4 separate regions of the Homo sapiens genome follow, and all the other regions are linked to region 4. The links come from fine-mapping of genetic effects on gene expression. A gene starts in region 4. Each other region holds a variant in brackets. All regions are shown on one strand. Distances are between the middles of the regions.

Region 1 (2,683 bases), 53 kb after region 4:
CTAGGAGCAGAAGATGCACCCACGGGCCCTCTCCTGTGGTGCGGACGCGCGTGGCTGCTGTGCTAGGAGCAGAAGATGCGCCCACGGACACTCCTGTGGTGCGCATGGGCTCGCGTCACGTTTACGCCCTTCAGTCGGGTGTTCTTTCCGGGAATCCATCAAAGCTGCTTTCTATTTTGTGATGGTTAGTTTAGTTAAAAACACGATCATATAGGTCAGGACATCTCATTACCCAGGCATAGCTAAGCTGTAACTATTCTCTATGTATTGAGAGGCGAGAGTCAGTCAGTGCCCTGCGCCCGAGTTGTGGGTGCCAGTGCTTCTCTTTTCTTGGCGACCCTGGCTCCTCACATGTGTCTTGTGCCTCACAGAGATGGAGACTGGCTGGGAGGCTGCTCTTACACCATATTCTAAACCAGAGGAGCTTCGTTTGTTTCTTATTTTAGGTGAAAATTCGTAGGCATGGGTGTAGAAACGTGCTCCCACCCGGTGGATCATCTTGTCAACCCCCGAGGTGTAGTATTCCGCCTCAGAGACCAACAGTAGAACCCGTGCCTTCCTAGTGTCCGCACTTGGATGGCCAACTGGCATCTCAAACTCAGTGTTTCCAAACAAAGCTTCTTATCCTCTCAAGCTTCAAATCAAATCAAACCAGCATCTCAGTAAGGGGCACCTCGCCTCACCCAGTTGCTCAAGTGGAAAGCCTGAGTCATCTTGACCTCTCCCTTTCTGTTGCGTTCCTCATCCAGTCCGTGTGCAAATCCTGTCAGCTCTGCCTTCAGGTAATTTCCTTTATCTGACCAGTTTTCTCCTCCTCCGTTATTATTACTGCTCTGTTTCAAGCCACCGTCATCTCTAGCTCAGTCTGTTGTACCAGGCTCTGAATTGTTCTCCTCAGCCTTGCCTGGCCTCCATCTGTTCTCCACACAGCAGCCAGGACATCTCTTAAAAACATAAATCAGGCTGGGTACAGTGGCTCACTTTCGGATGCCGAGACAGAGGACCACTTGAGCCCAGGAGACCCTATTTCTACAAAAAGTTAAAACATTAGCTGGGCATGGTGGTGCAAGCCTGTAGTTCCAGCTACTCAGGAGTCTAAGGTGGGAGGATCACTTGAGCCCAGGAGGTTGAGTCTGCAGTGAGCCATGATCACTCCAGCCTGGGTAACAGAG[C/T]GCAACCCTGTCTCCTAAACGAAAAAAGAAAAGAAAAGAAAAGAAAAGAAAAGAAAAACATAAATCAGATTGTGTCACTGCCCCATTTCAAACCTCCAACATACTTTGGGTAAGGTCTAATTTCCTTACCATGGCCTTCAAGCACCCATGTGATCTGGCCCTTGCTTGCTTTTTAAAGTTCCTCTCTTATTGCCCTACCCCCTTATGCTGTGTTCCTACTACACTGCCTTTCTTGCTATTAGGCAATCTCATTGCAAGGCTATTTCCTGTTTTTTTTTGTTGTTGTTTTGTGTTTGTTTGTTTGTTTGTTTTTTAGACAGGGTCTTGCTCTGTCACCCAGGCTGGAGTGTAGTGGTGTGATTTTGGCTCATTGCAACCTCCGCCTCCTGGGCTCAAGCTATTCTCCCACTGGCATGCACTACCACGCTCAGCTAACTTTTTAAGGTGATTTTGGAAAGACGAGGTCTCACTATATTTCCCAAGCTGGTCTTGAACTCTGGGCTCAAGCAGTCCTCCTGCCTCAGCCTCCCAGTGTGCTGGGATTACAGGTGTGAGCCACAGCACCCAGCCTGTTTCCCACATTTTATTCTGGTCTCTGTTCAGAAAGGCCTTTCTTGGCCACAGTTCTAAAATAGCATATATACAAACTCCATCCCTACCCCCTCTTTGTAATCTTCCCCTGTTTTCCTTTTCTTCATCATACTACTACTTGCATTCTATTACATACTTATTTGCTTGCTCATTGAGATTTATTGCTCATTTATTTACTGCCCTGAGAACCCCATTAGAACAGGGTCATGTCTCTTCTCTGCTGTGTCTCCAGCTCCTAGAACGGTACTCAGCACATAATGAGTGCTCAATAAGTACTTATTGAATGAATGAGTAAATGAATCTTCACAGGGACAACAGATGAAATCCCAAGGATAGTAGATAACATTAAGAGAAAAGAGGGCAAAGGGCAAATCTTTGGAGAAATATTTAAATTGAGGGCAAAAAAGGCACTCTAAAGGAAGTGAAATTTCAGCTCCAGTTAACTAGGCATGAAAAGAACATAGTGTGCATTTGGGAACCCAATAAGGAAGAAGGCATCAAGCTGGGCTCATTTCTCTGCCTCAACTACAGGAATGTTTTTAAAGAGCAAACCTGAGCACAGGTCAAAAACCTGGACAATGAAAAATCAATCTCTCAGCCCAAGAAGGACTGTCCCCTGTTATCATGGGGGCAGTCATTTAAAGAGAGCTCAAACCAGGATCCTGAGGCCAACTCTGCCTGGGGCATCAGCACCTCTGGACTGGGACAAAGCAGCAGCCCTGGGGCACCCTGGGAATCCACGTGGGCTGCTTATGGCTCTTCTTCAGAAGTCAAGGCGTGATTCTTAAGAAAGCAGTCAAATACTAGAGGGTGACCCCTTTTATTAGGTTCATCATCTTAGCCACAGAGAGACCATAGTGTTTGTCTATAGCCTGAAATACTCAAAGGCCACAGTGCTGAAAAGAGGCGGAGGCTTCAAG
Region 2 (2,683 bases), 40 kb after region 4:
TTGGGGGTAATTACCAAATCTGCGTGTTCTCTCTGGGGGCTCACTGTGTTCAAGGGGCTTCATTCACGGGGTGCTGTTCTTGGACATTGGCTTTGTTTTTTTTCTGTTAATTTCCTTGATGCTGTGAGCATGTTCCAGGGTGTTGTTGCCTGCAGTCCTGGTGCCCGGAATGTGACTCTCCCATGTAACAGATACTTACTGTGTGGCCACTGTGTGTCAGGAGGCTGTGGTCAGCCCTGGTGGGTCATCACCCTGGGCAGAGGCCCACAGAACCCCAGGACCAGCAGGCTGTACTCCAGAGCACCTCAAAGGCCCAGGGAATGTGCCTGGAGCACATGGTGTGGATAGAAATAGGCAAAGCAGGGGCAGCAGGGATTCTGTGCCGAGAAAGGGGCCCAAACCCTTTCCTGTTTGTCAAAAGATGAAGAATGAAATCCAAGGTTTTTAGGAGGCTGTGTCCTCCCGGATATAGACGCCTTTGTCATTATGTCATTGGAACACCTGAATGAGGTTCATATTACATCCTGATGTTCATATTACATATATGAGCAAAGCTAGAGACTCAAAGCAAGACAGTACAGCTTGTATGTGTTGACTGAGCAATTCAAATATGCCAGCTACCATAGTACACGAATTAACTGACTTAAGCCATACTACAACCCTCTGAGGAAATTTTACTATTATTCTCATTAACCAGATGAAGAAACTGAGGCTCAGAGAGGTGAAATAACTTACTCAAAGTGGTTTAGATAAGAAATAGGGGAGCTGGGATTTGAACCCAGGCAGTCTGGGTCCAGAGTCTCAAGCACTATCCTTCACTGCCCCTTTCAATGCACGTTTGGACTCAGCCAGGGCATACATCATGGTCTGTTTCGCCAAATCCCTCAGTGACAGTTCCTTGGTGATTTGGGCCACCCCAAGGTGGGGCAAGCAAATAGCTAATGGCTATGCAGTTATTACTACGTACCAGGCAAGGAGCTAAACATTTTCCTTTTTTTAAATGCATTATCTCATTTTATCCTTACAACAGCCTGGTAATATAGGTACTATAATTATGCCTGTTTTACAGATGAGGACACTGAAGCTTAGGGAGATTAAGTAACTTGCTCAAGTTCTCACCACAACTTAAAAGAGCTGTAGGGCATTGACTCCAGATCCTACCGGATGGTTAAGACTGACTGACCCTGGGAGGAGAACAGAATTTTGCACATCAGGCTCTCACAGTGGGACCCTCACTCCCTCTCAGACCTCAGAGCCTAGCCATGTTTAGTGAGTGCCATCTGTGTCTGGAACAACAGCTCCCTCAGCCCTGTCCTCCCACGACGGGCTTGTTTAGGAGAATCTGCCCTTCACC[G/A]TTTCGCCAAACGGGCTTATCCAGATTTGAACTGGGGGATTCTGGCCTTTTTTTCTCAGGAAGGCACAAAAATGACTTCATGTTCTATTTCACCGTGGAGGCTATTTTTGACCCTCAGTTTTAGATAGATAGATAGGTAGATAGATAGATAGATAGATAGGTAGGTAGGTAGATAGATAGATAGATAGATAGATAGATAGATAGATAGATAGATAATTTTTTGTTTTTTTTGAAATGGAGTCTCATTCACTCTGTTGCCTAGGCTAGAGTGCAGTGGTGCAATCTCAGCTCACTGCAACCTCTGCCTCCTGGGTTCAAGCAATTCTCCTGCCTCAGCCTCCCGAGTAGCTGGGATTACAGGCATGTGCCACCATGCCCGGCTAATTTTTGTATTTTTAGTAGAGATGGGGTTTCACCATGTTCGCCAGGCTGGCCTCTGTTTTATTTGAACACTGGATTTGCCTCTCACATGAGGGGGTAACTGCAATTTTAGGAGGCTCCTGGTGGCCCCAGTCCAGGGCAATGGGCACTCCATGATCCAAGCCACTCTTAGCCTCAGGGTAGGAGAGGGTCTCAGGGTGTGCTGTGTGTGGTGGAAGCCACCAATGGACAGCTTGCTGCTTCCCATCTGGTGTCTCCATTCCTTTGCCTCTGAAGGTAACATCTCTCACTTGTTTCTTTCTGAAGATGTCACCACCATCAGGACAAGTGTAACCTTTAAGCTAAATGAAGGCAAGTGTAGTTTGAAAAATGCTGAGCTGTTTCCCGAGGGTCTGCGACCAGCACTACCAGGTATGGAATCAGGTGGTTGGTGTAGGGAGCTTGCCTGCATGTGGGAAGGGGCCTGCAGCCAGCCGAGCTGGAGGTCCATGGGGGCCAGGGGCTGTCCAGCCGATCCAAGCACACTGCAGATGGAACTGAACCATCCCCAACTTCCAGGGACTCATCCCAAGAGGAAGAAGAGCATAACCTAGCATGCTTGTATAGTTCTGGGGTCACACTTCGGGGCTTCCTTTGCATGGTATAGTTGGTGAGGCTCTGGGGAAACCCACGAGTTCACAGAAGTCAATAAGGGCTTCAGATGAATTAGCAATTTGTGATCATATTGGGTTAAATTTTCTAGATCTCAGATTTTGCTTGAAATATAAGCCAAAGAAATGAAAAAAGGTTTGGCTCAGAAAGGATAACTTTGATGAACAAAGATCTAATATCCAGCCTTCCTGCTGGGTCTAGTTTTTGGAAGCGGTGACCCCATTGGCTTCAGCAAAGCAAATACCATCCAAGTAGAACTGGCCTTATTGAGAAGAGCAGAATCTAACATTCCTTTTT
Region 3 (2,683 bases), 36 kb after region 4:
TGGCTGATATTAATAACAGATTTCATAAAATGGCATCAATTCCTAGGGAAGAAACTAGGTTTTTCTCATTTTTCACTGATCGGTCTTGGTAGAACAAATACTTGCACAGAACAAATTTACTGAAGAAATGCCAGGATTTCTGGGAAAAGCTAGGGATGAAGAGGTTTTGCAAGAATTTGCCCTTTTTTATTTTGCTTTTTCATTCTTCCTGTTCCTTCCACATTTTTGCCTTTTATTAACATAGTTTCTCATGGCACACTCGGTGTTGAAAAAAGTGGTCTAGCAGTGGTCTAGTTGGCTTCGACTGAGTGCGGCACTGGTCCTGGTTTATCCATTTGGAGACACAAGTCGTAACTATGTTAAAATCCTCCAGAGTTCAGGGAGTGAAGCACTCAAATTCCAGCCTACAAGAAAGAGGTTGAGGGCCAGACCCAGGGAAAGAGATGCTGAGATGGACAAATGCAGCCTCCTGAGGCTGCTGTGCATGACCCCCGCTGCAGCCAAGGAGGCTTCCACACTGAACCAGGAGGCTAGCAGACTCATAGGACTGGCACATAGGGGAGGAGCAAAACCAAGGCATCGGCCAAAAGCATCCAATGTGGAGCTGAACTACCACATTTCAGGGCCTGCAAAGAGAAAATTAGTGAGGATATTAGTATTGATGCATTCTTTCAGTGCAGAGGGCATTAAAACCTAGGATTAACTGGCCTCTTGGGGCCAGAAGACTAATTCTGAGAAAATAAGAAAGGGATGGGAACTAGATTTACCTCCAAACCAAGTGTTTTCTCCTTTCAATTTGCCGTAGTTAATAAATTAATATTGCTGTTTTACTAATAGTTATATGACAATAAAAATGCATAGCTAGCACCTGTAGCTTACAAAACCCTTTTTAGGTATGTTATCTCATTTGGCTTCATTTAAACATTTTAAATTAGCCCTGCAAGTACGCATGGGTGAAAGAGACCAACTGAGTTTTGAGGGAAGTGCAGTTTGCAACAGAATGTGGAAATGAGGGCCG[T/C]GGCAGTCAGTATACTTCTTGTGGGCTGCTCCACACTTTCTTTAACACAAGTGAGTGAGGAAAATGGATAGATAATGTTTTTTACTCTGTGTGTATTGTTTTTGGTGTTGGTCAGCAACTGGTATTTATCATAAACCTATTCTTCACTCATCCCTCAGAGTGGGTTTCAGCTCCCCTCTCCCTTTGACCATTACAGATGTGGATGAGTGCTCTTTGGATAGGACCTGTGACCACAGCTGCATCAACCACCCTGGCACATTTGCTTGTGCTTGCAACCGAGGGTACACCCTGTATGGCTTCACCCACTGTGGAGGTGAGCAGACTGCCCCTGTCAAGTTGGGAGGGGAATGAGGCTGGGCCTGGAGGGGAGCAGGGCCTACCCCTGAGGTTTGCTTTCCTACATTGGGGTATGAAAGGTACATTGCAGTCCCTGAGCAATAGCGGTGAGTCCATCAACTTGAGAGCAGGATCTGCTAAAGGAAATCTCCCCACATGTATCCCTTTAACACACCGAGTGTGAAATGGAGCAGAGAGAAGAACTGAGCTCTTCCAGCTGTGAATTCTCTATCGACTTGATTGACTTGCGGCTGTATTCAGAGAGTGGAAGGGTATCTCAGGAGCTGATAACCTATCTATTGGAACATCTCAGCAGATAGTAAAGTCACAGTCCTCAGAGAGGCTTGGGGGGCACCCACCAATTCCACAGCCCTGCTATGCATAGGAACTGGCTGCAAAGCCTTGGTTTGAGTCCCACAACTAGGTCTTTGAGCTGGAAGCAGAACTATGAAGTTTCTCTCTCCACTCTGTGCCCATTTTGCAAAATGTTCTCATGTCTCATAACCTCATGGTCAAGCAGGCTATGCCATAAACTGGATTTGTTACCAACTAACTCCCACTCCACTCCCCCAGCCATCAGATTCACCCAGCAATCTTTGAGAATACAGGTTCAGATTCCAATTCAGAATGTCTAGGACTTCCAAGGTCATCTTCCTGAGGATCTATAGGATTTGGGAACCACTGGCTTAAATACTTCCTGACCAGTCCTGAGTCTTGTGCTTTAGAAGATTGGATATGCTGGGCGTGGTGGCTTACGGCTCTAATCCCAGAACTTTGGGAGGCCAAGGCGGGCGGATCACCTGAGGTCGGGAGTTCGAGACCAGCCTAACCAACATGGAGAAACCCTGTCTCTACTAAAAATACAAGATTAGCCGGGCGTGGTGGCGCATGCCTGTAATCCCAGCTACTTGGGAGCTGAGGCAGGAAAATTGCTTGAACCCGGGAGGTGGAGGTTGCAGTGAGCCGAGGTTGTGCCATTGCACTCCAGCCTGGGCAATAAGAGCGAAACTCCACCTGAAAAAAAAAAAAAAAAAAAAAAAAAAATATATATATATATATATATATATACACTAGTGCTTTGCTACTGACAGTTATCTCCCTTCTCCCTTTCAACACATCCTTGGCATGGCCAAAGACATACTACTCTTCCCAGTCCATCAGGAAACCTCGAGGAAATGTACCCTGAGTATGGATGTATGTCTGGGTTTAGGTGGAGCTACCTTTTGATCTGGACTCAGTCTCAGGTTGATGGGAATTAGTGTAGTCACTTCCCTTTCTCTGTGCCTCAACTGTGTAAATGGTTAAGCAGGGAGTCCCAGTTCTGTCTGC
Region 4 (2,683 bases):
AATAGCTGAGTGTCTCTCTCAGCACCAAACAAAAGGGAGTGGGAGGGAGGCGCAGACAGAAAGAGGGACGCAACCTGCCTGCCTTCACTGAAAGGGTCAAAAGAAAAACAACTACAGAAAAGTTATTTTCTCAGATAGCTCCATCAAGCAGCTGCACTAGCCACAGCCCAAAGAGGCAGGCCCCCGTGGGCATGTTCGGGGGCTGGGGTGGCAGACAGTGGGTACTGAGGGTGCAGAGGCTGGGAGCTCTGGGCTGTGGATAGGCCCCAAGAAGACATAAGAGTTTTTGTGCATGAGCTAGGTGGGGATTTTTTGGTGACATCTATTTTTTTTCTGATCTCCAAAGGAATGGTGTGTGTGTGTGTGCGCGCGTGCGTGTGCCTGCATATATACATATGTGTATGTATATAATCGCAGGAGAAAATTGAATAAATACGGAGAAGCTCAGTGAAGAACATTACTATCCCTAAGTGTGATGTTTGGTTGCGTCCGGAAATTGTTACTATATTTGTTCCTGGAGTGATGGTGGGTGTATTGGGCTCCAGCCATCCGTGTCAAGTGTGATATGGGAAGACCCTGTGTACCTGTTCCCTTGCAAGGACTGTCTTTCATGGAAGGCTAGGTGCTAGGCCCTGCCTGTGTTTGAAGCTAGCCAGACCTGATGTTTATGAGTTCAGGTGATCGTAAATGCCACCTGTACTCCGGCAAAGTCGGGGCTGCTGTCTGTTGTCTCTGGTGGCTCACCTTTGACCTCTAGCCCCCTTCCCCTTAGGCTGCCCTGAGATATACATAAGTAGCTTGCAGGGATTCTAGGCCCAGTGTGCCCCACAGTGGGACAAGTGGACCAGTGCCCTCAGGGCTGTGGGATGGAGGATCCCAGAGGGCCTGGGGTGGGCAGTGTGGAGAAGGGTGCAGAGGGTGTGCTGGGGTGGGCAGAGAAGCCAGGGTCACCTTCTCCATTCAAACAGCTGTTTTCCCGAATTGGAAGTCACCCCCAATTCCTTCCACTCCCACCTCCCACCTCCCACGTGGAAAGCCCCAAGATGGCTTTGGGGTTTGGGGACTATACGGAACACTTTCTGGGCGCCCTGACCCCGAATATTTCAATCTAGAAGGGCTGTTTGTCCTCACATGAGGGCCTGGGTCGAGTTGTAACACACTGGAACAGGCGCGGCACCGAGGGCTCCGAGCGTTGGAGCGGAGCGGGGATGCGGGGGGCAGCGGGCTGGGTGCCAGGGCTGCGCGGGGCGCGAGGCACGGTGCTGCCGCCCCGCCAGGCTGACAGCCGCGCTCGGGCCACCGCGGCCGCGCCCCCTCCACCCGAGGCCGGGGAGGGGACGGGAGGAGGCCGGGCGGGGCGGCACTGCTCCCGCCTGCGCTTCCCGCCCCGGCCCGGGAGGGACCGTGTGAAAATGAGGCCGGGGCTCGGGGGGCGGGCGGGGCCGGGCCGGGGGTGGCAGCGGCAGCGGGCAGGGCGTCCGCGCACACCTCCCCGCGCCGCCGCCGCCACCGCCCGCACTCCGCCGCCTCTGCCCGCAACCGCTGAGCCATCCATGGGGGTCGCGGGCCGCAACCGTCCCGGGGCGGCCTGGGCGGTGCTGCTGCTGCTGCTGCTGCTGCCGCCACTGCTGCTGCTGGCGGGGGCCGTCCCGCCGGGTCGGGGCCGTGCCGCGGGGCCGCAGGAGGGTGAGTGTCCGGCCGCGGGGGCGCACCTGGCACAGCAGGCAGGGCCAGGAAGAGTGTTTAGGTCCCCGGCGGAGTCCAGAGCCGGGCGCGCGGGGCTCGGGGCTGGCGGCTGCAGCTCCGCGGGGGCCTCTGCTCCCCCCGGGACCTCACCCGCCGGCCGGGCCAAGGCGCCACGACCGCTGGGGCCCTGAGTCCTTCGGCCCGGCCTCGGACCCGGAGCTGCTGACGGTTCCCGCCCCGGTCCGGATGCCTCCAGAGCGCCTGCTAGTCAGACCGTCGCCGGCGAGCAGGCAGGAGGGTGCGGACCCTGGCCTTGGGGTCCCGCGCCTCAGCGTAGGCGGGGAAACTGAGGGCCGGGCCGGGCACATCCGCGAGGCGGTGGCAGCTTTGCCGTTTCTTTCTTTGGGGGCCGGCAAGTTCTGCTGATGGCTTCGGGGTGGGCTCCAGAGACTTTTCTGTCAGCGGAACAGCGCCTGTTCCGATCTGGGAATTACCCTGAAGCAGCAACAAGCCTAGGTTTTCAGCAGAGAACTTTGGTTTCCAGAGAGGACTCTGGACGTGCTGTGCTTACTGGACTTGCAATACTTTCAAAATGCTTTTGTTTTTAATTAATATCCTGGAGTAGTGTCAACCCAGGAAATACTTCTGCCAAGGCGGGTTTCCAGGTTGAGAGGATGGGCAGGGGTGGGAGTGCAGGGGGCCGGCCATGGGGACACCATCCCCGCTTCGCAGCATCTGAGAGCCCTGGATGACATCTGCTCCGATCCCGGGGCAGACTTCCCATAAATACTCTAAACCAGCGGGGTGCAATCTTTTGGCTTACCTGGGCCACAGTGGAAGAAGAAGAATTGGGCCACACATAAAATATACCAACACAAACGACAGCTGATGAGCAAAAAAAAAAAATAAATAAATAAATAAAAAAAAAATCTCATAATGTTTTAAGAAAGTTTATGAATTTGCATTGGGCCGCATTCAAAACTGTCCTGGGCTGCAC

Evidence for each region. PIP is the estimated chance that this variant, and not a neighbour inherited with it, causes the effect.
Region 1: its variant is the best candidate, but not a certain one, in a credible set for the expression of SCUBE2 in blood mononuclear cells (TOPMed, PIP 0.73).
Region 2: its variant is the best candidate, but not a certain one, in a credible set for the expression of SCUBE2 in gastroesophageal junction (GTEx, PIP 0.89).
Region 3: its variant is the best candidate, but not a certain one, in a credible set for the expression of SCUBE2 in coronary artery (GTEx, PIP 0.80).

What each region holds. Positions count from the first base shown.
Region 1 is chr11:9,037,417-9,040,099 of GRCh38, reverse strand. All of the region lies in intron 16 of SCUBE2 (signal peptide, CUB domain and EGF like domain containing 2), which reads left to right. The region is part of intron 1 of NRIP3-DT (NRIP3 divergent transcript); the gene reads right to left. Among named protein-coding and RNA genes, the nearest start is that of NRIP3-DT, 35 kb to the right of the region's middle. RefSeq lists a silencer at 805-854. The variant C/T (reference allele first, on the strand shown) is at 1,173.
Region 2 is chr11:9,050,069-9,052,751 of GRCh38, reverse strand. SCUBE2 (signal peptide, CUB domain and EGF like domain containing 2) reads left to right here. Exons shown (of 23, transcript NM_001367977.2): 13 at 1-6; 14 at 2,042-2,146. The region is part of intron 1 of NRIP3-DT (NRIP3 divergent transcript); the gene reads right to left. Among named protein-coding and RNA genes, the nearest start is that of MIR5691, 39 kb to the left of the region's middle. The variant G/A (reference allele first, on the strand shown) is at 1,355.
Region 3 is chr11:9,054,441-9,057,123 of GRCh38, reverse strand. It overlaps SCUBE2 (signal peptide, CUB domain and EGF like domain containing 2), which reads left to right. Exons shown (of 23, transcript NM_001367977.2): 10 at 1,215-1,331. All of the region lies in intron 1 of NRIP3-DT (NRIP3 divergent transcript), which reads right to left. Among named protein-coding and RNA genes, the nearest start is that of MIR5691, 35 kb to the left of the region's middle. The variant T/C (reference allele first, on the strand shown) is at 1,019.
Region 4 is chr11:9,090,399-9,093,081 of GRCh38, reverse strand. It overlaps SCUBE2 (signal peptide, CUB domain and EGF like domain containing 2), which reads left to right and starts at 1,483. Exons shown (of 23, transcript NM_001367977.2): 1 at 1,483-1,686. The coding sequence starts at 1,554.